Homo sapiens: one gene and its partners. The protein of the gene in region 3 purifies or fractionates together with the protein of the main gene of each other region. This does not show direct contact. Each region holds a gene or a part of one and is shown on either strand. Other genes may lie near its edges. The genes, in order: AKAP11, ARHGEF9, CRAMP1 and PPP4R3A.

Region 1 (6,126 bases), on a different chromosome or scaffold from region 3:
AATCTAGATGCCAGAAACAAGAGAGTAATTAAATGATCTTAGGTTCATTCCCACAATGACGCCATGGCAGCCATTAAAAACAATACTGCAGGACAAAGGAATGGCACGCCTTACATCACTTTCTCTGAGTCTGCTCCTAACCTTGCCTAAAAGGGAAGTAGGGAAAAGAGATAGGAAACAACAATTACCTTTGCAGCTGCTGACTAAAGTCAACTGAGCAAAGATAAACATTAACTCCCAGGAGACTTCACCATCAAATAAATGGGACCAACTATCTAAATGAGCTGCTCACCCTCAGGTGCAACAAGCACCTAAGGTAGAAGAAACAGTTTCAAAGTTGGGCAGGGAGAGGTGGGAGTGCTCTGAAACAACATCCGGGATTTGACAGGGCTGGCTACCCCAGTTCACTTTACCCACAATTTTCCTGAATAGCAGATCCAGATAAAACACCCTTATTCAAGATTGAATAATAAAGCAAATGGAATTCAGTATGGGATCTGCGAAGGAACACTGAAAAACAAACAACATACAATATACATAAAAAGAAAAAATCCAGACAAATATAATCATGCCCCTGAGACTCACATTATCTCAGAATTCAAATCATTGTTTGAAATTAATGAAAGAGAAACAGTTTAATTCTATATTTACACTCTGTTTCACTCATGGAAGAAAAACAACTTACTGCCTTACTCCACCACTTTTTCATTTAAACATAAATAAAATACTGTCTCAGGAAGAAAGAAATCTATTAGAGAATATCTGTGCAACATAAAAGTGAATCCAATATGAGATGATATGACATACTTTTGTAAAGCAAAGAAAAAAATCATCTTTGGAAATGATGCAAAGATTGATGGGGGAAGAAAGGATAACAGCTACTAGAGCAGGATTTCTTTAGCATCTTATATAATTAGAGAGCACATCGTTTTTGACAGATTTCACAAGAAGAACAAAAATACAGTATATTCACCTAAAATACATTTGTATTATGATAAACTTTTCATTTAGTGCTTTACTGCTTTGTGCCCTATTCTGGATGAAGAAACAAGAGTCCTAAGCAAAGAATAACTAAGTGCGTTATCTATAGTCAAAGAAATTAAAGTGAACCTACATGGCTTGGAAAAAAGCAGATGAGAGACAAGAAAGAGGCAGACAAGGCAAACAACTACGAAGTGAACCACTATAGCTCAGGAAACACACAGAAAACTATCACTAAACAAATGAAATCCCCTTAGAAATAACAAAAAAGCAGAACAGACATTGCTAAAAACAATGGAAAACCAAGAAGATTTTAAGAAAAATCACAGAATGCAAAAGTAAACAAATGAAAGCAATTACAGAAACAATTATAAAGAATACAGAGAACAGAGATATAGGGCACTTTAAATAAATACACATATCCTTTAGTCCTGCTATTTCACTTCTTAAAATTTATCCTACATATATACTTGCACAAAATTCACAAAGATATGTGAAAGACTATTCACTGAAATAAAATGAAAAAACTGAAAATAATCTAGAAGTTCATCAATTCAAATAAATTCACATGATTATTACTCAGCTATTGGAAATAATGAGTTAGAGTGATCCATACTGGCGTGAAAGAGCAAGTTGCAGAATGGTGTTAATAGGATGCTCTCACTTGTAATTTAAAAAAAAAAAAAAAAAAAAAAGACTGGCCTAGCACAGTGGCTCCCAGCACTTTGGGAGGCCAAGGCAGGAAGATCACTTGAGGCCAGGAGTTCAAGAACAGCCTGGGCAACATGGCAAAACCCAGACTCTACTAAAAATACAAAAATTAGCTGGGTGTGGTGGTATATGCCTGTAATCCCGGCCACTCGGGAGGCTGAGGCACAAGAATTGCTTGAACCCAAGAGACGGAGGTTGCAGTGAGCCAAGATTGTACCACTGCACTCCAACCTGGGCCACAGAGTCTCAAAAAAAAAAAAAAAAGAAAGAAAAAATTATATACAGACACAACTCTGACACACATATGTAAATATTTGTGCATCCACAGGAAATGACTTGAAGGAGGTACACTAAACTGATGCCAGTGGTCACCCATGCAAGTGGGACTTTTAAATTTTATAAAATGTCATCTATCTACAATATGAGAAGATGGTAGATCATTAAGTAAAATAAGACAGGTTCTGGCATATTAGCATTATCCCATTTTGTGAAAAATCTGTATAACTACATGTGTGTATCTATATATGTAATATAAAAGAAGACATACACTAGATGAGTACAGACATTGGTTTCATCTGGGTAGATACAATCATGGGTGTTTCATTTTGTGTCTATGTATGTTGAGTTTTGTACTTTTCTGAATGAACATAAATTCTTTTATAATTAAAAAATATATATTCTCCAAGTCTTTCCTTATCTCCTCTGACCTAAGAAATGTTCAAGTTGACATCACCTATTACTTGACCTTTTTTGTATCAGGAGAATTAACTATGCCAGTCTGTGAAGCGCCTGTCAACAATATTGCCATATCTTGACTCTCTTCCTACTGCACTAGTTCTCAAACCTCAGTACCTGTACACATCAGCTTATTTCTAACACACACAACTCCCCCACCAGAAGATCCAAATTCAACAGGTCTACATGGAACATAGGAATCTGTACTTTTAACAACTGCCACATGTAATTTCTGGTTGAGAAAAACTTGTCTCTCTGTATGTAAGTTTCCTTTCCTAAATTATTTCATAACTTGTTACTCAAATACTAATATTTCTTAGTCTTCATCCTTATCCTCTTGTCTCATTTTATTTAGTTTTTCAAGGACATTTTATCCTTACCTCTGGTTTTAACTATGCAAATAACTCCCTAATTTATTCTTCAGTTCTGTATATCTAATTTCCTATTAGACACTTCCAACTAAATATCCCAGTTACTCCAAAATTTGTATGTTCAAAAGGTAAATAAAACTTTCTCCCTAAACGATCTCCTCCTGTATTCTCTATCTCAGTAAGAGCCATTAAACCAAACCCAACCAGTAGGCCAAGCTGGAAACTGGTCTTCCCCTCAATTCCTACAGACTACCTCGCCTAGTAAATTGCCAAATCCTGACTTGTCATTCTCCTAAACTTCTCTCAAATCTACCCTCTCTCTTCCACCAGCTGAACTGCTACTTACTATTCACGCACCAGTTCAAAAACTTCCCTCCCTAAAATAGGCTTGGCTCATATCTCTCCTTTATCCCTCCTTGCCCAAATAGTAACCACCTCCTTTGTGCTCTCTAAGTGGTTTATAATTTAATCCTCTGGTGCCACTGTTTGCATACTTCCCTCCTGTTGTAAGTTCCATGAGGACAAAAGTGTTTTATGTATTTTTACATAGTAGGCATTCAAACATCTGCTGAACTAATAAATAAAAAGTAACATATTTAAAGAACAAAGTTCAAAGCATGATGTAGGCTGAAAAATATAAAACAGAATAAAGAGCAAAGTATGCCTTCAAATATTTAAATGAGTATGTCTACATTTAATGAGTTTGTGAAAATACATTTGTGTTTCCAATAATTTCTACTTTATAGTATCTGAGATCACATTTAGAGTAAACACTCCAAATACACATTTTGACCAAATGCCAAATGGCCAAGTGTTAAAAATTAATATTCTGTTGAATATAACTACAAGAAAACAGGACAGAATATATATGAAACATTGGTTTTAAACATCAGACAACAGGGAACACGGGATTGTGATCCCTGAGAGAAGGGAAACACTGGCTGCCAGCTACTTCCAGGTCACAATACAGGGACAGGAAAGCCAAGCAGTCTGGTGGTTTCACTGAGTTTTAAACACAGATCAGTTTGGAGAGACCAAGATGGCTAGAATTTACAGGGTATTAAGCTGGAGGGAGAGCTGAAAGTAAGTGAGAGCCCTAGAGATAAACCATAATATATTCCACCAGAATAGAAAAACCTTGTAATGTATCAGGTAATGATAGACTCCTCAGAAGAAGTAGCAGCCTTAGTAGAAGCAGCCTTAGTAGAGACAATAATTCAGCACTACGTTAAAAACTGTTCTGGACCCACACTAATAAATTCTAAAAGCAAGCCCTGAAACAACCCAACAGATTCCAAGTAACTGTGCACCCCAACTAAATCCAACACACTTCAGTAATATAATAAATCAAGCAAGCAACAGTATAAACTCAATGGCTGGCATACAATAAAAATTACCAAGCATGCAAAGGAAGAGAAAAATATGAACCATAACCAAGAGAAAAAAAGGCAATAAATGAAGACCTAGAAATGACAGTGATGATGGCAGGAACAGAAAAGGATTGTAAAACTATAGTACAAATATGTTCCATATACTCAAGAAGTGAGAGGAAAACATCACCATAAGGAGAGAAGGAGAAGATACAAAAGACACCAAAATTGAACTTTTAGAGATGAAAATTAAATATACTGAAACGAAAACCATACTGGATACAATTAACAGATTAAACTAGAGAAGAAAAGCTCAGTGAACTTGTAGACAATGTAATAGAAGCTATCCAAAATGAAACATGGAGAGACAAAACTTAAAAACAAACGTAGAGTGTAAGTGACTTTTTAAGCACCATAAAAGGTGAATAACTGGAGTTCCACGAAGAGACATAGTGAGTAAGCGAGTGAGTGAGTGAGAGAGAGAGAGTGTGTGTGTGTGTGTGTGGGTGTGCACGTGCGTGCACTGGGGAAGTGGGTGCAGAAGAAAAAAAAATTTGAAGACAAAATAGCAGAGAACTTCCCAAATTTGATGAAAACCGTAAACTGACAGTACCAAGGAAGCTCAGCAAACCCTAAGAATAAACATAAAGAAAGCCAAGGCAAATCATAACCAAATGGCTGAAAACCAGTGATAAAGAAAAAATATTAATTGACCAGAAAAAAAGTACACATTATATACAGAGGAACCAAGGACAACAGACTTCACATCTATATGAACCGGAAAACAAGACAATGGAGCACTATCTTCAAAGTACTAAGAAGAAGAAAAAAAAAAAAGCATCAACCCAGATATACTCAATGAAAATGTATTTCAAAAATTAAGGCAAAATAAATTTATTCACATGAATAAGGGCCGTGAAAATTCACCACCAGTTGACCACCACTAGAGTAACTATGGAAAGAAATTCTTCAGGCAAAGTAAAACAATACCAGATGGAAATCTGAATCTTACACGAAGGAATAAAGAACATCTGAAATGGTAAATATGAGGGTAACAGAAGTTATTCTTCATTTTTCAATCCCTTTTAAACAGTTAAAATATAACTGTTTAAAAATAGTAACAATTAATTAGAGGGTTTAAGACAGACATATTGATAAAATGTATGACAAAATAGGATAAAAAATGTGGCAGGGGAGATGGAGACAAAAAAAGACTGTCATAGATTTCTACATTAAACATGAAGTGATGTTATTTGAAGAAAACCTGTAATAAGTTATCTTGTAAACCCTAACACAAACACTAGAAAAATAAAACAGAATAATACCTAATAGGTGAACAGCAGAATAAAAGTGATGTTATCCCCCTTTTTGCAAATAAGGAAGCTAAGTTCCTTTCTTGGGTACAGACCTGTTATTTGACTTACAAAATCTAAAACTACTACAGCTATCAGATACTATTTTGTTTTTCAAAACAACAGTCAATCGTATAAAATGATTTTAGTATGTCTTAATATCTATTAAGATATTTGCTTCTTTATAGTTTCTGCCTTTTTCCTTTTTAATCCTCAACCTCATTCCTGCATTCACAATATATATGTTCTTACCGCTACAGAGTTTCTCAATCTCAGCATTACTAACATTTTGGGTCAGATAAGTCTTTGTTGTAGGAGGCTGTGTATGCATGGTAGGACACTTAGCAGCTTCCTTGGCCTCTACCCACTAGATGCCAGTAGCACTCAGTTGCAGTAACCAAAACTGTCTCCAAATATTACCAAACATTTCCTTGGGGAGCAAAATCACCACTTACCCTATTTTAGCACTTTAGACTACAGTGCCTTATGTAACAGTTAAATGTCTACATGTCTATGCCCTGCACTGGACTGTAAGTACTACCAACGTTCAACACATACATTCACCAAGCGTCTAAGTAACAGTGATTGGGATACAACAGTGAATTT
Region 2 (6,126 bases), on a different chromosome or scaffold from region 3:
CTCTTTTTTTCAGAGATGACATAATTGTATATGCATAAAATCCTAAGAAATCTACAAAAAAAATACTGGAACCAATTAGTGAATTTGGTTATGTGTCAGGACACAAAGTCAATGTACAAAAATCAACCGTATTCCTGTGTAATAGTAATAGACTATAGGAAATTGACATTTTAAAATACCACTTACAATGGCAGCCGAAAAAATTTTAAATACTTAGAAATCAACTTTTAGGAGAGGATGTCAGTAAGATGGCAGAGTAGGAAATATCGCCTTCCTTTCTTCAGCAAACAACAACAATTTGGTAGCTATCCATGAACAAAAAATAATTCTGGAAAAGCTTAGGGGTCCACTTAAGAAGCCACAGCAATATAGTGAAAGAAAAAGTCAGAAAACAAATACACAAAACGAGTAGGAAAAACAGTTTCATTTTGCTTGCATCACCCCGTCCCCATAGCTGGTACTGCTCATTATGAAACAGCAACTTGGATCTTGGATCTTGTGTCCTACATACAGGGAGGAGACAGGAGTGTACAACCAGCTTCCCCAGCTTTATGGGACACTGCCCTAATGACCAGCTTCAGTTTCATCCCACCCAGATCTCTGAAAAGACAGATATAGCCTAGATGTCTGGAAACAGCAGAGAGCAAAGAATAGGGATTGGTTATATCAGTATCAGCAAAGTAGCAGGAGTCGCAGTGATCTGCCGTGGCCTCTTTGGCACAGGGCCCCAGTAGGCCTCTCTGTCAAGGACCTCAATAGCCCTCATAGCCACTGGGTACCTCCTGTAGATTTTACCTCTCAAGATTCTTCAGTGTTCACAGTCACAGACCCCAGAAGCTTTTTCAGCTTTTCCTGCTGAGAAAACCAACTGCTAGTATAGTATCAGCAGACGCCCTGCAGCTTATACTGCTAAGGGTCCATGGGTTGTTTTTTCTTCCTTTTGAGTTTTAGGAGAAAAAACAAACAAACAAACAACAACAACAACAACAACAACAACAAAAAACATGCCTGAGCCATGTCCCTTCTTCTTCTCTACTTCCTGGAGCCACCCAGAGCTGCCCAACTGCTGCTGTGGTTACTATAGCCCAGTGGGAAGGGGTGATGTAGGCCAACAGCTTTCACATTCTCCAGATCCCTGATCCACCAGAGCTTTCCCTCCCCCATGCCCAGAGCTGCCTGAGCTACTCCTACCACAGGTGCCTTGGCAAAGGGACTCAGCACAGGAGCCTTTGCATTCTCTAGGTACTTAAGCAAGTACTACCTCCTTGGATGCTCTGGCCCAGTGACCCAGCACAGCTACCATGCATGTACCTGCAAACAGCCCTAGGGTCCCAAACTAGGGATTCTAGTCTCACTACCACATGTTACCAAAGCTGACCCACGCAGACAGGCTATCACACAAATTCTTCTAAAGCACACATGGAATACTGTCCAGAATAGACCACATGCTATACCACAAAATAAGTCTTAGCAAATTTAAGAAGATCAACATCATATCAAGTATCTTTTCTGGTCATGATGATATAAAACTACAAGTCAGTAACAGGAAGAAAACTAGAACATTCTTAAATCAGTAGAAATTAAACAACATATCCCTGAATAACAAATGGGTCAAAGAAAAAATCAAAAGGGAAATTAAAAAATATCTTGAGACAAATGAAATTGAAAGCACAACATACCAAATCCTTTGGGATGCAGCAAAAAAAGTTCTAAGAGGGGCGTTGATAGCATTAAAAAAAATCTGAAATAAACAATCTGATATTCCACCTCAAGGAACTAGAAAAAGAAGAACAAAGTAAACTCAAAGATAGCAGAAGGAAAAAAATAAAAGATCAAAGCAGATATAAATCAGAGAACAGAAAAACTTAGGGAAAAAAATCAACAAAACTAAGACTTGGTTTTTAGAGAAAAAGAATATAGGTAAATAAAATTAGAAATGAACATGAAGATATTACAAAAGATGTCTCAGAGATGAAAAGGATTACAAGGGACTATTATGAACAATTATATGACAACAACTTGGAAACACCAGAGGAAATGAATATATTCCTAGAAATATAAAACCTACCAAGATTGAATCAAGAAGAAATAGAGAGCCTGAACATTAACAAATAAAGAGATTGAAGTAGTCATTTAAAATCTCCTAACAACAAAAGATCATAGGACCAGATGGCTTCACAGCTGAATTCTACCAAATACCCAGATAAGAATTAGTAGCAATCCCTCTTAAACTCTTCAATAAATAAATAAATAAATAAATAAATAAATAAATAAATAAAAGAACTAAAGGGAATACTCCCAAATGATTCTAAAGTCAGACAGAAATACAAGAAAAGGGCCAGGCGCTGTGGCTCACGCCTATAATCCTAGCACTTTGGGAGGCCGAGGTGGGCAGATCACAAGGTCAGGAGATCGAGACCATCCTGGCTAACATGGTGAAACCCCGTCTCTAATAAAAATACAAAAAAATTAGCCAGGCGTGGTGGCGGGCGCCTGTAGTCCCAGCTACTTGGGAGGCCGAGGCAGGAGAATGGCGTGAACCCAGGAGGTGGAGCTTGCAGTGAGCCGACATTGCGCCACTGCACTCCAGCCTGGGTGACAGAGCGAGACTCTGTCAAAAAAAAAAAAGAAGAAAAGAAAACTACAAGCCAGTATCACTAATGATCATAGGTATAAAGATTCTCAATAAAATAGTAGCTAACCCAATTCAGTAACATATCAAAAAGATCATACATCATGACCAAGTGGGATTTATCCCTGGGATGCAAGTATGGCTTAACAAATCCAAATCAATTATTATGATACATTACATTAGCAAAAGGAATAATTTAAAAACCACACGGTTATTTCAATAGATGTGGAAAAAGCTTTCACAAAGTTCAACATCCTTTCAGGATAAAATATCTTCACAAATTAGGTATTAATATTAAAAATTTCCTCAGCATAAGAAAGGCCATTTATGAGATGCCCACAGGTAACATCATAATCAATGGTGAAAAATGGAAAGCTTTTCCTCTAAGATCTGGTATAAGACAAGGATGCCCACCCTTGCCAATTTTATTCAAAATAGTACTAGAAATACTAACCATGGCAATCAGATAAGAAAAATAAATAAAATGCATCCAAATTGGATCAGAAGTAAACTAGCCCTATTTGGAGATAAGATGATTATATATGTAGAAAGCCCAAAAGACTCCCTCCAAAAATTAAAAAGAAAAAAACCTGTTAGAAAAAGTGAATTCAGTAAAGATGCAGGATACAAAAAAAAAATCAGTGTACAAAAATCAGTTGCACTCTTTATACCTATAATGATGTATCAAAAAAAGAAATTTTAAAAAATCATATTTATGATACCATCAAAAAGAATGAAATACTTAAGGAATACATTTATTCAAGAAGGTGAAAGATCTGTGCACAGAAAACCAAAACACCCTGATGAAAGAAACTGAAGAAGACACAAAGAAATAGAAAGATTTCCCATGTGCAAGGATTGGAAGAACCAATATTGTTAAAATGTCCCTACTACTCAAAGTGATATAGAGATTCAACACAACCCCTATCTAAATTCCAATGGCATTTTTCATGGAAATAGACAAAAACATATATAAAATTTCTATGGAACCAAACTAGACCCTTGATAGCCAAAGCAACTCTGAGAAATAAAAATAAATCTGGAGGCATCACACTCTTTGATTTCAAACAATATTAGAAAACTATGGAAATCAAAACAGTATGGTACTAGCATAAAAACAGATATACCAATGTAATAGAATAGAGAGTCCAGAAATAAACCGAAGCAAATATAGTGAACTAATTTTTGACAAGAGCACCAACAGGACACAATGGGGAACGTATAGTCTCTTCAATAAATGTTGTTGGAAAAACTGGATATCTATATGCAAAAGAACAAAATTGGGCCCATATTTTAGACCATACACAAAAATCAACTCAAAATGCATAAGAGACTGAAACATAAGAGCTGAAATAATAAAACTACTAAAAGCACTACTGCTGTGCTTTTTTATATGACACCAAAAGCACAGGCAACAAAAGCAAAAAGAAACAAGTGGGACTGCATCAAATTAAAAAGCTGCTATGCAGAAAAAAAAAGTCAACAACATGCAAAGGTAGCCTATAGACTGAGTGAAAATATTTGCAAACTGTAAAGTGGTTAATATTCAAAATATACATAAAGTGGTTAATATATATAAAATATATAAAGTGGTTAATATTCAAAATATATAAGGAACTCACATCACTTCACAGCAAAAAAAAACAAATAAACAAATAAACTAATTAAGAAATGAGCAAAGAATTTGAATAGACATTCCTCCAAAAAAGACATAAAAATAGCCAACAGGTATACGATGATGCTCAACATCATTAATCATCAGGAAAATGCATATCAAAACCACAATGAGAAATAACCTAGCATCTATTAGGATGGGTATTATCAAAAAGATAAGACATAACAAGTGTTGACAAGGGTTTAGAGAAAAGGAGACCCTTGTACACTGTTAGTAGGAATATATATTGGTACAGCAGCCACTGTGGAAAATAATACCTTTAAGATGTTCCCAAAGAAATCAAAAATAGAATTATCAAATTATCCAGTAATCCCTCTTTTGAGTATATGCCCAAAGGAAATGCACTCACTACCTTGTAAAGATATCTGCACTCCCATGTTCATTGCAGTACTATTAACAATAGCCAAGATGTGGAAGCAAACAAAGTGTCCATTAATGGATAAATGGGTAAAGAAACTGTCGGGTGTATATGTATATGTAATATGTTGCCTATATTTTAATAAATTACCTCTATTTTTAATTTATTTATATATATATTACATATACATACAGAGACACAGAATAGAATATTATTCAGACTTTAAAAAGAAGGAGGGAAGGAGATTATGTCATTTGTCACAACATGGAGGAACCTAGAGGACATTATGCTACATGAAATAATCCAGTCACAGAAAGAAAACTACTGCATGATTTCACTTATATGTGGAATCAAAAGGAAAAAAAAAATGAATACATAGAAACAGATTAGGATGGTGGTGACCAGAGGTGAGGGGGTGGGAGAAAATGGGAAGATATAAGTCAAAGGGCACAAAGTTGTAGTTACACAGGAAAAGTCTAGAGATCTAACCTACAGCATGGGGACTAGAGTCAACATTATTGTATTATACACTGGAAATTTGCTAAGAGAGTAAATTTTAGATACTATTACCACAAAAAAGTAACTATGTGAGATGATATGTTAATCTGTTTGACTGTAGTCATCACTTCATCATTTATATCAAAACATCACATTGTACATCTTAAATTTATACCTTAAATATTTTTTAAAACAATCAAATTTTAAAAGGTCAAAATCATACAATGAAAACTAAAAAACAATCCTGGGAGAAATCACAAAAAAATCGAAATAAACAGTTAAATGTTCATGGATTTGAAGACTCATCATATCAATGTTCCCAAAACTGATCCACAGATTTAATGCAATCCCAACCAAAACACTGATAGGGTTTTTGTTTGCTTGTTTTTGGTAAAATTTGGCAAGATTATTCTTAAATTTATATAGAAATACAAATAACCTAAAATAGCTAAAATTGTTTTGAAAAAGAACTAAGTTGGAGGAGTTATGCTATCTGATTTAAAGACTTGCTATGAACCTATATTAATCAAGAAAGTGGGTTACTATTACAAGAATAGTCATATAGATCACTAGAACAGAAGAGTATACCTAAAAATAGATCTGCACATATATGCTTAATTGATTTTTGACAAAGGTGCCCAGGCAATTCAATAGGGGAATCAGTATTTTTTAACAAATATCCATACAGAAACCAATTAACCTTGATCTGTATTTTGTGCCATATATAAAAATTACCACAAAAGGGATCATAGGCCTAAATGTAAAAAATAAAACTATATAACTTCTATTTTTAAAAAAGTAGAAAACCGTTATGATTTTGAGATAGGCAAAGAAAGTAGGAAACAAAAAGTATGACCCATAAAATAAAATAAAGCGATAAACTGGATTTCAATAAAATTAAGATACTCTTAAAACTAAAAATCGAATTACCATTCAATCCAGCAATCCCATTACTGTGTATTG
Region 3 (6,126 bases):
GCTCTTGCTGTGTACCTGATTGTCTGAGTTTATTTTTGAGTGGCTCTGCTTTCTGGGCTGCAGCATTTTTAGTCACTGCACTTTGTTGTTGACATTTTACAGGGCGGTGGGTAGCAAAGTTGATGCAATAATTTTATTAATTGTTGCCAAGAGTTTTAACACCATTGTCTTCTACCGCTTCTTGCACCTGGACCCGGACATAACTGGGCTGTCACTTTCCCGGGTGGTTCCAACCTGTTCCATGCAACAGGCTCCTTTGTTGCAAAAGCATTTTTAACTAGTAAATCCCCGCAGCAGCTCACATTTCCCACCCTGGGAAGAAGATTCCCAGAGACCCGGAGCTGATTATTCTTTATGTGTGTTTTAAAATAAGCAGGCGGGCCGGCGGCATTGGGCCACCATGGAGTTCCCCGTGCGGGCAGGCGAGCCCGCGCTTCTCCCGTCCCGGGGTGGATCCGGCCTCCTCTGTCCTCCTCCAGGGCCAGCTCTGGGGGCCGGCGCGTGGGGCAGGTGCGCGGGGCCCGGGAGCCCCGCGCCTTTCGGGGGGCGGGGAGGGGGTGGGACGAGGGGCTAGGGCTGGGGCTGCGGCCCGGCCGGCCGAGGCGGCGCAGGGAGCGAGGCCGGCGCGCAGGGCCAGGCCATGAGCCGCGGCCCCGCCGGGTAGGTGGCTGTGGGCGGGGCAGCGGCCCGGACCCGCAACCGTGCCCAGACCCGCGCCCGCGCCGGGGCTCCCATAGACCCCGGGGCCGGGGCCGGGGCCGGGGCCGGGCAGGGTCCGCCGAGCTGTCGCGCCCTCCCGCCGCCGGCCCGGGCGTCTGGACGCGAGCCTCGGCCAGGGGGCGTCCGGGGAGGCCCGGGAGGGTCCCGGGCTGGTGGGCAGGGCCGGGGGCGGCGGCGTGGGGGCGGCAGGGGCCGCGGCGGGCTCGGGCGGGCTCGGGCGGGCCGGGCCGAGCCGCCGAGAGGGGATTTGGAACAAACAACGGCGGCCATGTTGAGAGCGCGTCGGGGCCGCTAAACTTCCCGGCCTGCGCCCGCCTCACCGGCCGCCTCCCCTCTCCCGGCCGCAGGATGACAGTGAAGTTGGGCGACGGCGGCAGCGGGGAGGACGGGCTCAAGAAGCTGGGCAAGCGGGCGGCCGATGAGGAGTCCCTGGAAGGAGAAGGGGCCGGCGGCGCAGACGCGGCCGAGGAGAGCAGCGGCACAAAGAGGGACGAGAAGACCCCCCGGGCCGGCGCCGACGGCCCCCCCGCGCCCCCCGGCGCGCCGCAGGCGCCGTCCCCGCCGCAGGGCAGCCCCCAGGACCAGCACCACTTCCTCCGGTCCAGCGTGCGGCCGCAGAGCAAGAGGCCCAGGAAGGATCCTCCGAGCGCTGTGGGGAGCGGCAACGCCGGTGGCTCGGGGCCCCGCGGAAAAGGTAGGGCGGCCCGTCCCCTTGGGAGACCCCAGCCCCTCTCCGGGGTGTGCCGCGGGGGAGAGGAACCCCTCGCCCCAGCCGGGCTCCACCCTAGCTCACCCATCCCGCGGCCTACACTGAGGCTCTCAATTTGGGTGGCACTTATGGGGCATGTGTCCCCTCTCTCCTTCGAAGAGGCTGCGACTTTCTATATTTAAACTCTTTGAAGAGGCAGTGAGTATCCTTTTTTGGGGGGGAGTCGAAGAGATCCCTTAAAGCTGTTTCCTTTCCAAAGGATCACTGATGGTTTTCTATGGTTTTGTGTTTCAAACAGCGGACAATAGTTCGGAAACGGGAAGAGAAAAAAATACCTGCTGTATCTCTTTCCCAGACATCAGGCGGTGGAAATGCACCAAGGGAGCAGGCTTTTGAAACTCATTGGGGGGAAGATGGGTAAGAAGCGGAGAAAGGATCCTTGGGGTCTGACTTGGACCCATTGTCCTCTCCTTCAAGTGCTCCTGGGTTGAGAGTAGGAAGGGCATAGAGATGGGGCCCTTTGAGTTGCAACTGGGGTTTACTTCTGTGCCAAAGAAAGGAAAGAGTGGTGAAAACGATTGACATGAACAAGCAGCAGCTTGTAGTGTTCGCCCTTGTATTCTGAGGTGATGGAGAATGTTGCTACTTAGCTGGGGTCTCTTACCAAGATAGTAAGAAAACGGCATGTTAGTTTCGTTCTCCATGTGCCAGTGCTTCATTGTTGTCTGCTCTTATTTCTATTTCAGTCTTGTGCTTTTCCTTACGCAGGTGAATGACTCTGATTCTTTTTGTTTCCGACCATGTTCGCAGCACTTTGTATAAATAGCAAATATAACATCAGCTTCCAGTGAGTTTCACGTGAAAAAAAAATCTTTCACTTCCTTCCTTGGGAAATGCTCGTTTACATTTAGTGAATGGTCCTGGTAGTTTTGACAAGGAAATATATTACGAACTAATGGAGAACCTGCTTTGGAGATCTGTGCCACATGTGTTCCATTAAGCCCACTTCTCCTGCCGCATTCTCAACCGAAGAAGGCTGGCCTCCGGAATCATGGCCTTACTCATTGGTAAAGAATTCTGATATAAGTATACTTATTTAAAGATGTAAATAGAAGGTAACTTAGCATGTTTCAGAATTTAAAACTTGCCTCATATGAATTTATTTTGATGTGAAAGTTGCTGATCAATTTGGAAAACATGAGTGGCTTTGCTTGTTACTAGTTTTTTATTGCTAGTTACAGGTATGTCTAAGCTCATATAAGCTCCATGGTTCCTTCAAAGGTTTGTTGTTCATGGTTCAGAAGCCCTGGACCTTGAATCCAGCCGGCATTCGTCCCCCATGTCCCTGGCCTCCAACCTTGCTCTGCCCCTTCACCCTCTTGGAGATGCTTTTCTGTCGGGTGTCCTCACCTGTGAGGCAAGGAATGAGAGCAGCTACTTCACCCCGTTGAAGTGCGGCTGCTAAAATGAAATAGTGCATTGGTGTGAAAGCACTCTCAGACGTGTACGTGGCTACTTGTATGTATAAGTGAAGTGCTGCTGAGACGTTAGTGATCAGGTCAATTTTTGGCAGTTGGGACGAGGGGAGGCTTGCTTTTGTTTGTATAGTTGAGAGTGGCTTGCTAAGGTGCAGAAGGTTTCCTGAGCTTGGCTCACACTTAGGTTGCTGGCACTTCTTTCTTTGCTTCTTGTCCCATTGTGTGGCTTGGAGAAGCGTGGGACTTTTCATTAAGTTTTAATATTAATAAAATGCAAATTTATTAGAATTTGTGCTCCTCGTGACATATCCATTATCCCACTTTAGCAAGCAAATATATCTTTTTTTTTTTTTTGAGACTGAGTCTCACTCTGTCACCCAGGCTGGAGTGCAGTGGTGCGATCTCAGCTCATTGCAAGCTCTGCCTCCCAGGTTCACACCATTCTCTTGCCTCAGCCTCCCAGGTGGCTGGGACTACAGGCGCCTGCCACCACACCCAGCTAATTTTTTTTTTTTTTTGGTATTTTTAGTTGAGACGGGGTTTCACCGTGTTAGCCAGGATGGTCTCGATCTCCTGACCTTGTGATCCTCCCGCCTCAGCCCCCCAAAGTGCTGGGATTACAGGCATGAGCCACCGCTCCTGGCCACAAGCAAATATATCTTTAAGCAAATAATAAGCTAAGCTGTGATGGTGGCTTTTAGGAGAGGAGTAGGAAGTGGGTCTCCTTTGCATCACAGAACTTCTCGGCCACTGTCTGCCTTGGAGCTTCCCGGGAAGGAAGGCTGCCTGTCCGCTGCTCTCTGCTTTCAGGTTCCTCAGTGCTTTGGGAGGCACTTCACTGTGCCCAGGACATCCTCTGACACCAGTCTTTGGAGAGACCTCTGCTCAGTCGTTGCTTCCATTACCCGTCAGAAAAGAAGGCCAGGTGGTGGCAGTTGCCCCGCAACAGTCTTTAGCTCACCTTCCAGAAAGATGCTCAGAGGAGAATCCTCTTACATTCTGGAGAAATCTGCATCTGGAGTGGTGAGCATCTGTCAGGGAGGAAACGATCAATACTTCATGTTTCAATTTTTCACTTGGAAATGATGTAACTTCTATTATGCCTAAGGAATACTTAGCTCAATCACTGGCAGTTCCTTTGGTTGATTACTTACTGCCCTGGCCAGTTTCAATCTCAGTGGGCCTGAGACTCTTACAGTGAATTTGGAAGAAAGGACTTGTGGAGAAAAGGAAAGTCTGCTTGTTTGGCTTTTCTGCATGCAAGTGTGTTTTCTTTCTCTGAAGAAGACACTCTTATTGACTTCAATGAAAAATGCTTTTTTTTCTAGTTCAGTTTCAAATTTAAATCTTCTTGCATTGATAAAGCGATGGTAGCTGGGATTTAGTGCCTGTTTGCCAGGCATCTTGCATGTCTGTAATTTTGCTTTTAAATGAGTGCAGAACCTGAAGTAGATTGTTTAAGTCACATGCTCAACCTAAACTCAAGGTAAGCTGCAGACCAGAAATCCCAAAACAGACATTCCTGCAGCTCTAATACACCACCCACGTGACCCTGGGACGCACTGGAGATTTCGGCTTAGAGCCGCAGAAACCATCTGAAAGACATAAGTCAGGAGACAGAGTCCTGATACCTTTCCCTATTTGGCCAGTTCATGATCCAGCTAGCCCTGGGCAAACTAGTCCATCTTTTGGATAAAATAAACACCTGCCTCAGAATCGCTTGAACCCGGGAGGCGGAGGTTGCAGTGAGCCAAGATTGCGCCATTGCACTCCAGCCTGGGCAACAAGGGTGAGACTTAGTCTCTAAATAAATAAATAAATATAAAAATAAACACCTGCCTTAAGTCACAAGGTGTTTTACAGGCACCTGGTGTTTCTGCCATGAAAAATGCATGCAGCTTCAAGATTACAGGACTGCAGGAGGAGGCTGCACAGGCTGGCGGGGTGGGGAGCCTACCTGTGGGGTGAGTAGAAGTCCGGGAATGCTGGTGCTCTGCTGGGGCAGATGGGATGAGAGAACACTGGGGGTGGGGACAGAGAGCCTCTGCTTATTTTGGTCCCCCTCTCACCCCGAAGAACTTCAGTTCCATCAAGGATGGGGAAATGCACCATCTCCAGAATAGGGTAATGTAGTCTGAAGTGACAGTCGTTTGTGTGTAGGAATCGGTAAACGACTGTGCACAATTTACTCTTTATATTTTGTATAATCTGTGGACTGTTTGTAGTTTCTAGATGTTTCAAAAAGATGTCTCATAAGAGATTGTACCTGTAGTCCTAGCTACTCAGGAGGCTGAGGTGGGAGGATCACCTGAGGCTGCTGGTTGGAGGCTGCAGTGAGCTGTGGACATTGCACTCCAGCCTGGGTGACACAACAAGACCCTGTTTCAAAAACAAAACAAAACCAAAAAAGATAAAGTAGGTAAGGCAAAATTTGAACATTGGTTTGAAGGCTGAGCTGCTTTTCAAATACCTGTATACTTTTGGTATTAAAACTAGTTTCTGTGGTGTCTGTTGTTGTGAAGTTGTCTAATGAGGTAGACTTTTCGATTTTCATTTTTGTATCTTATTGTGGCTTATGTAAGGATATAACAGGGAGATGATTCATGATTGCAAAGTCAGAAATGTGAAAATTAACATCGTTGTATAAAGTGGTGTGTAGAAGCTCTTTGTCACATAAGTAACAACAGCGGGGTTTTGTTTTTTGTTTTTGTTTTGTTTTTGAGACGGAGTCTCATTCTGTCGCCTGGGCTTGAGTGCAGTGCTGCGATCTCAACTCACTGCAATCTCCGCCTCACAGGTTCAAGCAATTCTCCTGTCTCAGCCTCCTGAGGAGCTGGGACTACAGGCGCATGCTGCTACACCCGACTAATTTTTTTTATTTTAGTAGAGATGGGGTTTTACCGTATGGCCCAGGCTGGTCTCGAACTCCTGAGCTCAGGTGATCCGCCTGCCTCGGCCTCCCAAAGTGCTAGGATTTCAGGCGTGAGCCACTGCGCCCGGCACAACAGCGTTTTTAACACTAAAGAACCACGTTAGAAACACTGAAAAAAGGAGACATTTCCAGGAGTTTGTAGTTTAGTTGGGATATCTTGCAATACCTACAGGATACAATTAGAAAATCTGCTGGTATTTCATGAAGAGGGCATACGCTTTTATACAAACAGTGGAGTTCTAGTTGTATTTCTCTCAAATATTTGTAGGAGGGGAAAGGGAGAATCT
Region 4 (6,126 bases), on a different chromosome or scaffold from region 3:
TAATCCCAGCACTTTGGGAGGCCGAGGCAGGCAGATCACCTGAGGTCGGGAGTTCGAGACCAGCCTGACCAACACGGAGACACCCCATCTCTACTAAAAATACAAAATTAGCCAGGCGTGGTGGTGCATGCATGTAATCCCAGCTACTCTGGAGGCTGAGCCAGGAGAATCGCTTAAATCCAGGAGGCAGAGGTTGCAGTGAGCCGAGATCATGCCATTGCACTCCAGCCTGGGCAGTAAGAGCAAAACTCCATCTCAAAAAAAAAAGACCCATAGATAAATTGGGGACTACTATAGTAGCCAGTGTACGTTATTCCCATTTTTTATTGTTTGGTTATCTCTAAGATTATGTAGTTTTATTAAATTAAGCTATTTTTGGTGGGTATGAATTGATTAAATTAAGCCTCATCTTGCTAAAATGACATTTTCCTATCATTTTTTCATTACTATTCTTTTCTGTAGGAAGATATAAAATCATTAACTGCTCATGTAATTGAAAATTACTGGAAAGCACTGGAAGATGTAGATTATGTACAGACATTTAAAGGATTAAAACTGAGATTTGAACAACAAAGAGAAAGGCAAGATAATCCCAAACTTGACAGGTAAATTACCATATATTTAAACCTATTCGTTCAGCATCAAGTCGTATGGTAGTGGCTTTATTGTTTATTTGATATTATTTGGCTTGACAAGGAACAGGGAAATCAGCAGATAGCAAATAGAAATTGTAGCTTCCTGTAAGGGTCAACATAAATGTTTCCCTGAAGATTAGGCTGGTTATTAGTATAATACCTCAGGCATGTATCAGGCTAGATAAGGGAAAAAAAAAAAAAAAGACCAAACAGTGGAAGTGAGGCTTCATGTGTTCCAAATAAAATCAGAGGATTATATTACTTGCTTTGAATTTACAAGTTACTAAGGTTACAAATTATTATTTAAAATTTTGTACATTAATCTAAATACCTGGATTTACATTGATACTTTAATATTTGTAAATTTCATGTTAATTCCCTATGTTAACAAGTTTAATAAGTCATCTGTAACAGTACAATTAAGTCCATATATGATTGTATTTACTCTTTCTTCCCTACTCATAGTATGCGTTCCATTTTGAGGAATCACAGATATCGAAGAGATGCCAGAACACTAGAAGATGAAGAAGAGATGTGGTTTAACACAGATGAAGATGACATGGAAGATGGAGAAGCTGTAGTGTCTCCATCTGACAAAACTAAAAATGATGATGATATTATGGATCCAATAAGTAAATTCATGGAAAGGAAGAAATGTATGTTGGAAAAAAATGGGCAAGAGAAAATTAAGGCTTTCTTACTCTAGATTTATTCTTATTTCTTGACAAAATGATTATTTGCTTGGAAGGTGTGATGGCATACGGTTTAAAGACTCTATTGCTTTATGGGATGTGACTGAATAGCAGTGTTGTGTAGGCATAAACTTAAGTTTTCTTAATTTGAGTTGAATAAGGAATATACTATTTCAGGAAGGGTAGGGATACTAAATATGATTCTGAAGGTTTCAATTCTTCTCTGGGGTAAGATCCAATGAATGGAATTGTGGTTAGTATTTTGGTAAGCTTCTTTTATAAATTGAACTTCAATGTTTCTACCCAGCGTAGTAAGCTAGTTAAATGTGTTTTAGTGTTACCTCATTTGGGGAAATTTAAAAAAGAAGTATGGGGGACGACTATTGACAGTATTCTCATTTTTAGTAAAAGAAAGTGAGGAAAAGGAAGTGCTTCTGAAAACAAACCTTTCTGGACGGCAGAGCCCAAGTTTCAAGCTTTCCCTGTCCAGTGGAACGAAGACTAACCTCACCAGCCAGTCATCTACAACAAATCTGCCTGGTTCTCCGGGATCACCTGGATCCCCAGGATCTCCAGGCTCTCCTGGATCCGTACCTAAAAATACATCTCAGACGGCAGCTATTACTACAAAGGTACATTCTTGACTCCCATTTTGCCCCCTTTTTTCCCAATTGAAGCTTTCTCAACAATAATTTTGACTAAGATTCCCTTTGGTTACTGCCACCTAGAACTGATTTAACATCCCTGAACTAGAGGATGAGTCCCCCCCACCGCTTGAACTTATATAAAGGTTGAGAAATTTCTGAAAGTTTTTTTTATGACCAATGCAAGTCTGCATATAGTGTGAATTCTCACTTGGGTATTTTGGATTTTAGAACTGAAACTTCAAATTTGTATGTCAAAACATTTACAGAAATGTTCAAGGTTTTCAGTTATTCTTGAATAAATGTTCCTAACTAATACCCAGATAAAGCCTTTGTGGGGAAATGATAATCTAAATATCTGGGTACTTCTAACTTTACTTTGCCAGTTAAGGTTTGTTAAGAAAATTAAACATCTACTATCACTAACATTTCATATAAGAAATGAACAAGGGCTGGGCACGGTGGCTCACGCCTGTAATCCCAGCACTTTGGGAGGCTGAGGCGGGCAGGACACGAGGTCAGGAGATCGAGACCGTCCTGGCTAACGTGGTGAAACCCCGTTTCTACTAAAAATACAAAAATTAGCCAGGCGTGGTGGCGGGCGCCTGTAGTCCCAGCTACTCTGGAGGCTGAGGCAGGAGAATGGCATGAACCTGGGAGGCGGAGCTTGCAGTGAGCTGAGATCGCTACTGCAACAGCGAGACTCCATCTCAAAAAAAAAAAAAAAAAAAGGAACAAAATCTTAAGAAAAAATGTAGAAAACATGCAATCTCAGAATAAAACCAGTTTTGGGGGCTCCTTATGCCAACCACCCTTTTCTTTTGAGACATAATATATTGATTATTGGGCTAGCAGACTAGCAGTTAAAAGACTGGCATTTGGGAATCACTGATCTAAATCAGACACGTAATGCCCATTCAGTCTTTTTTTTTTCTGGCGTGAGCTGGAGACTCCTGACGGCTAAGAAGTGAATCTGAGACACGCTGAAATGAAGAGGCAGGCTTGAGAGCAGAGCAGTGTGAATTTTTCCCTTAGCATCGAAATAAAGCAAGCAGCAGCCAGGCGCGGTGGCTTACGCCCGTAATCCCAGTGCTTTGGGAGGTCCAGGGGGGTGGGTCACGAGGTCAGGAGATCCGAGACCATCCTGGCTAATACGGTGAAACCCCGTCTCTACTAAAAATACAAAAACATTAGCCGCGTGTGGTGGCGGGCGCCTGTAGTCTCAACTACTCAGGAGGCTGAGGCAGGCGAATGGTGTGATCCCGGGAGGTGGAGCTTGCAGGGAGCTGAGATGGCGCCACTGCACTCCAGCCTGGGCGACAGAGTGAGACTCCATCTCAAAAAATAAATAAAGCAAGCGGCAGTGGTTTCTGGTGAAGGAGCAGGGCTAAAAGGAAACCCAGATGAAATGATGAGGAAGAGTCAGGGTAGAACTGCTTTCCTAACCTCTAATAAATAGAAAAAGCCTGTCTACCCTCATTTCTGGTGGTCTCTTTATCTGCTGCAGTTTTCATTTTGGTACTTTTTTTTTTTTTTGACAGAGTCTCAGTCTGTCACCCAGGCTGGAGTGCAGTGGCGTGATCTTAGCTCACTGCAATCTCCACCTTCCAGATTAAAGCGATTCTTGTGCCTCAGCCTCCCAAGTAGCTGGGATTACAGATGTGCACCACCACACCTGGCTAATTTTTGTAATTTTATTAGAGACAGGGTTTCACTATGTTAATTAACAGGCCAGGCTGGTCTCAAACTCCTGTCCTCATGTGATCCCTCCGCCTCAGCCTCCCAAAGTGCTGGAATTACAGGCACAGGCCACCATGCTCAGCCTCATTTTTATACTATTTTAGACTTTATGTTTAAAAAAATTTTAAGATGCTATTAAGTCTTGAAACAAACATTTTTCATTCATTTTCTAACTCCTGGGTAATTTGCTAGGATTATAAACTACTTAAATTTTTTTGCTTTAGTTTGGGTGCAGTGGCTCATGCCTGTAATCCCAGCACTTTGGGAGTCCAAGGTAGGTGGATCGCCTGAGGTCAGGAGTTCAAGACCAGGCTGGCCAACATGACAAAACCCTGTCTCTAGTAAAAATACAAAAATTACCCAGGCGTGGTGGCGGGCGCCTGTAATCACAGCTACTCGGCAGGCTGAGGCAGGGAGAATTGCTTGAACCTGGGAGGTGGAGGTTGCAGTGAGCCGAGATCGCACCACTGCACTCCAGCCTGGGTGACATAGCGAGACTCCGACTTGGAAAAAAAAAATTTTTGCTTTAATTCTAATTAACTCAAAGTTTTCCCTTATTGTAAAAAAGTATGCATGTTTATTACAGGAAATTTAGAAAATATGTAAACATAATGAATTGAAGTTTAACACAGTCCCACCACCCAGAAATAACCACCGTTACTATGTTGGTAGGATCTATTTTCTTTCTCCAGCCAGAAAACACCAGTGTTTTTATATGTTTTATTTTCTGTTCTTTAAATAATCCTTATTTCTTAACAGGGAGGCCTCGTGGGTCTGGTAGATTATCCTGATGATGATGAAGATGATGATGAGGATGAAGATAAGGAAGATACGTTACCATTGTCAAAGAAAGCAAAATTTGATTCATAATAATGGCAACGGCCTAGGATCAGTACCTGTTGAAAAAAACTGGTTCTCCACCCCTCCCCCATACAAAATCCACAACAAAGCGCAGTGGTCTCTTGTGAATGACTGACACAGATCAGCCTCTTACACTTGACTTCTGCTCATCAAGTGCCAATTCAATGGAGCAGGAGGAGGGGATATCATATATTTAGGGGAAAGACTTAAGCCTTTGAGCTCTCCAGCTTGGACCACACATTGCCCTTTTCTCAGGGAAGGAAATGGAAACAAAAAGCCAACAGGGCAGGGGTTTTGTAAGTGGAACTCTGGATTGACTGGTCAGTTGCTACAATCAGAATATGCTTTCTTGGACCATGTTTGAGACTCAGAAGAATGGGCCTTTCTGCCATAATTCTTCACTAGTCAAGAATGCCAGCAGTTTCTTTGTATAAAGAGACCTGCCTTTAAAATCATACATTCTGAACATTTTAGTCAAGCTACAACAGGTTTGGAAAACCTCTGTGGGGGAGGGGCGAGTATAAAGTTTTCCTCTTTTTTAACTGTTCCCTTTGCCCTTCAAACTGCAGATATTTTTTTTTTTAAGTGGGGACTTCTCCCTACTTGATTAAAGATTGAGTGGAATTCTAGATGTGGTCATTTGTGTCATAATTTTTTTGTTTTATTTTGTTTTTGATTTTTTTTTTCCTCCCCTGAGTGTATGCTTAGTTGTTGAGTATATATATTTGGGACCATTAAAACTTTTTTTGATGTAATATAACCTAACGTTGTGCTGGTACCTGTTTTACCATGTGTAATTTTTGTTCTACATCACAGTTCTTAATTTGTTTAGAGTTTTATGAAAGATGGTATAGTTTTTATTGACAAAAGCAAAGTAATCTTACAACTATGTGCATACAAAAGCAATACTATTTTGTGACTAAATATTTTATATTAAAATTTACATCAGCAACTGTCTTGAGAATTCAGGGAAATAGAATGGAATTTAAAACTTCAACAGTTTTGTTAAATCTAGAAACATGAAATTAGTATTCCAAAGAGATTCTGAAATTTCTTTTCTTGGGGAAATGACGGTACATTAAATCAAAATTGAGGATGGATGATTTAAAAACATTTGACTTTTGAATAATAAAAAGAAAAGTGAAGAGTAAGAGAAATTGTATTAGTTGTATGTTTCTTGTTTTTGTTTTTAACTACTCCCTTTGGAATACCAGTTTGACTTGTAAGTGGTGGTTTCTAAATAAATACCTGGCCAGAGGACCATCACCTGTCACCTTATTAAAACAGTATTTTTAAATAGGTTCTTTTTGTTGTCTTAGATGTGATCAAATTATTTCAAGGAAAATGAAAATAATTCTACTTACCCTCACTTTTTAAAGTGAAGAGTTTAGAACTTAAGAATATATTTTCAAATGTGAATAAAACTTCATATCCAGGAAAGGATGCTATTTTAAGTATCATATACTTTAAGAGTATCTAGCAAGCGCTGTGTGCTTCTCTGTCTTGTCTTGTTTATTCCTCAGTAAATTACAATGGTGGTACCAAAAACAAGAC

What was found.
Region 1: the proteins of CRAMP1 (region 3) and AKAP11 purify together in Homo sapiens (affinity purification with mass spectrometry; 2 studies listed by BioGRID and IntAct, with this or other methods). This does not show direct contact.
Region 2: the proteins of CRAMP1 (region 3) and ARHGEF9 purify together in Homo sapiens (co-immunoprecipitation; one large-scale study listed by IntAct). This does not show direct contact.
Region 4: the proteins of CRAMP1 (region 3) and PPP4R3A purify together in Homo sapiens (affinity purification with mass spectrometry; 2 studies listed by BioGRID and IntAct, with this or other methods). This does not show direct contact.

Annotation. Positions count from the first base shown.
Region 1 is NC_000013.11:42,277,811-42,283,936, reverse strand, and holds part of AKAP11 (A-kinase anchor protein 11), read right to left. Parts: intron 1-6,126. UniProt on the Homo sapiens protein: Binds to type II regulatory subunits of protein kinase A and anchors/targets them.
Region 2 is NC_000023.11:63,679,897-63,686,022, forward strand, and holds part of ARHGEF9 (rho guanine nucleotide exchange factor 9), read right to left. Parts: intron 1-6,126. UniProt on the Homo sapiens protein: Acts as a guanine nucleotide exchange factor (GEF) for CDC42. Promotes formation of GPHN clusters.
Region 3 is NC_000016.10:1,613,572-1,619,697, forward strand, and holds part of CRAMP1 (protein cramped-like), read left to right. Parts: intron 1-1,067; 5' UTR 1,068-1,068; coding exon 1,069-1,414; intron 1,415-6,126.
Region 4 is NC_000014.9:91,457,214-91,463,339, reverse strand, and holds the end of PPP4R3A (serine/threonine-protein phosphatase 4 regulatory subunit 3A), read left to right. Parts: intron 1-462; coding exon 463-605; intron 606-1,100; coding exon 1,101-1,291; intron 1,292-1,732; coding exon 1,733-1,959; intron 1,960-4,470; coding exon 4,471-4,581; 3' UTR 4,582-5,832; downstream 5,833-6,126. UniProt on the Homo sapiens protein: Regulatory subunit of serine/threonine-protein phosphatase 4. May regulate the activity of PPP4C at centrosomal microtubule organizing centers.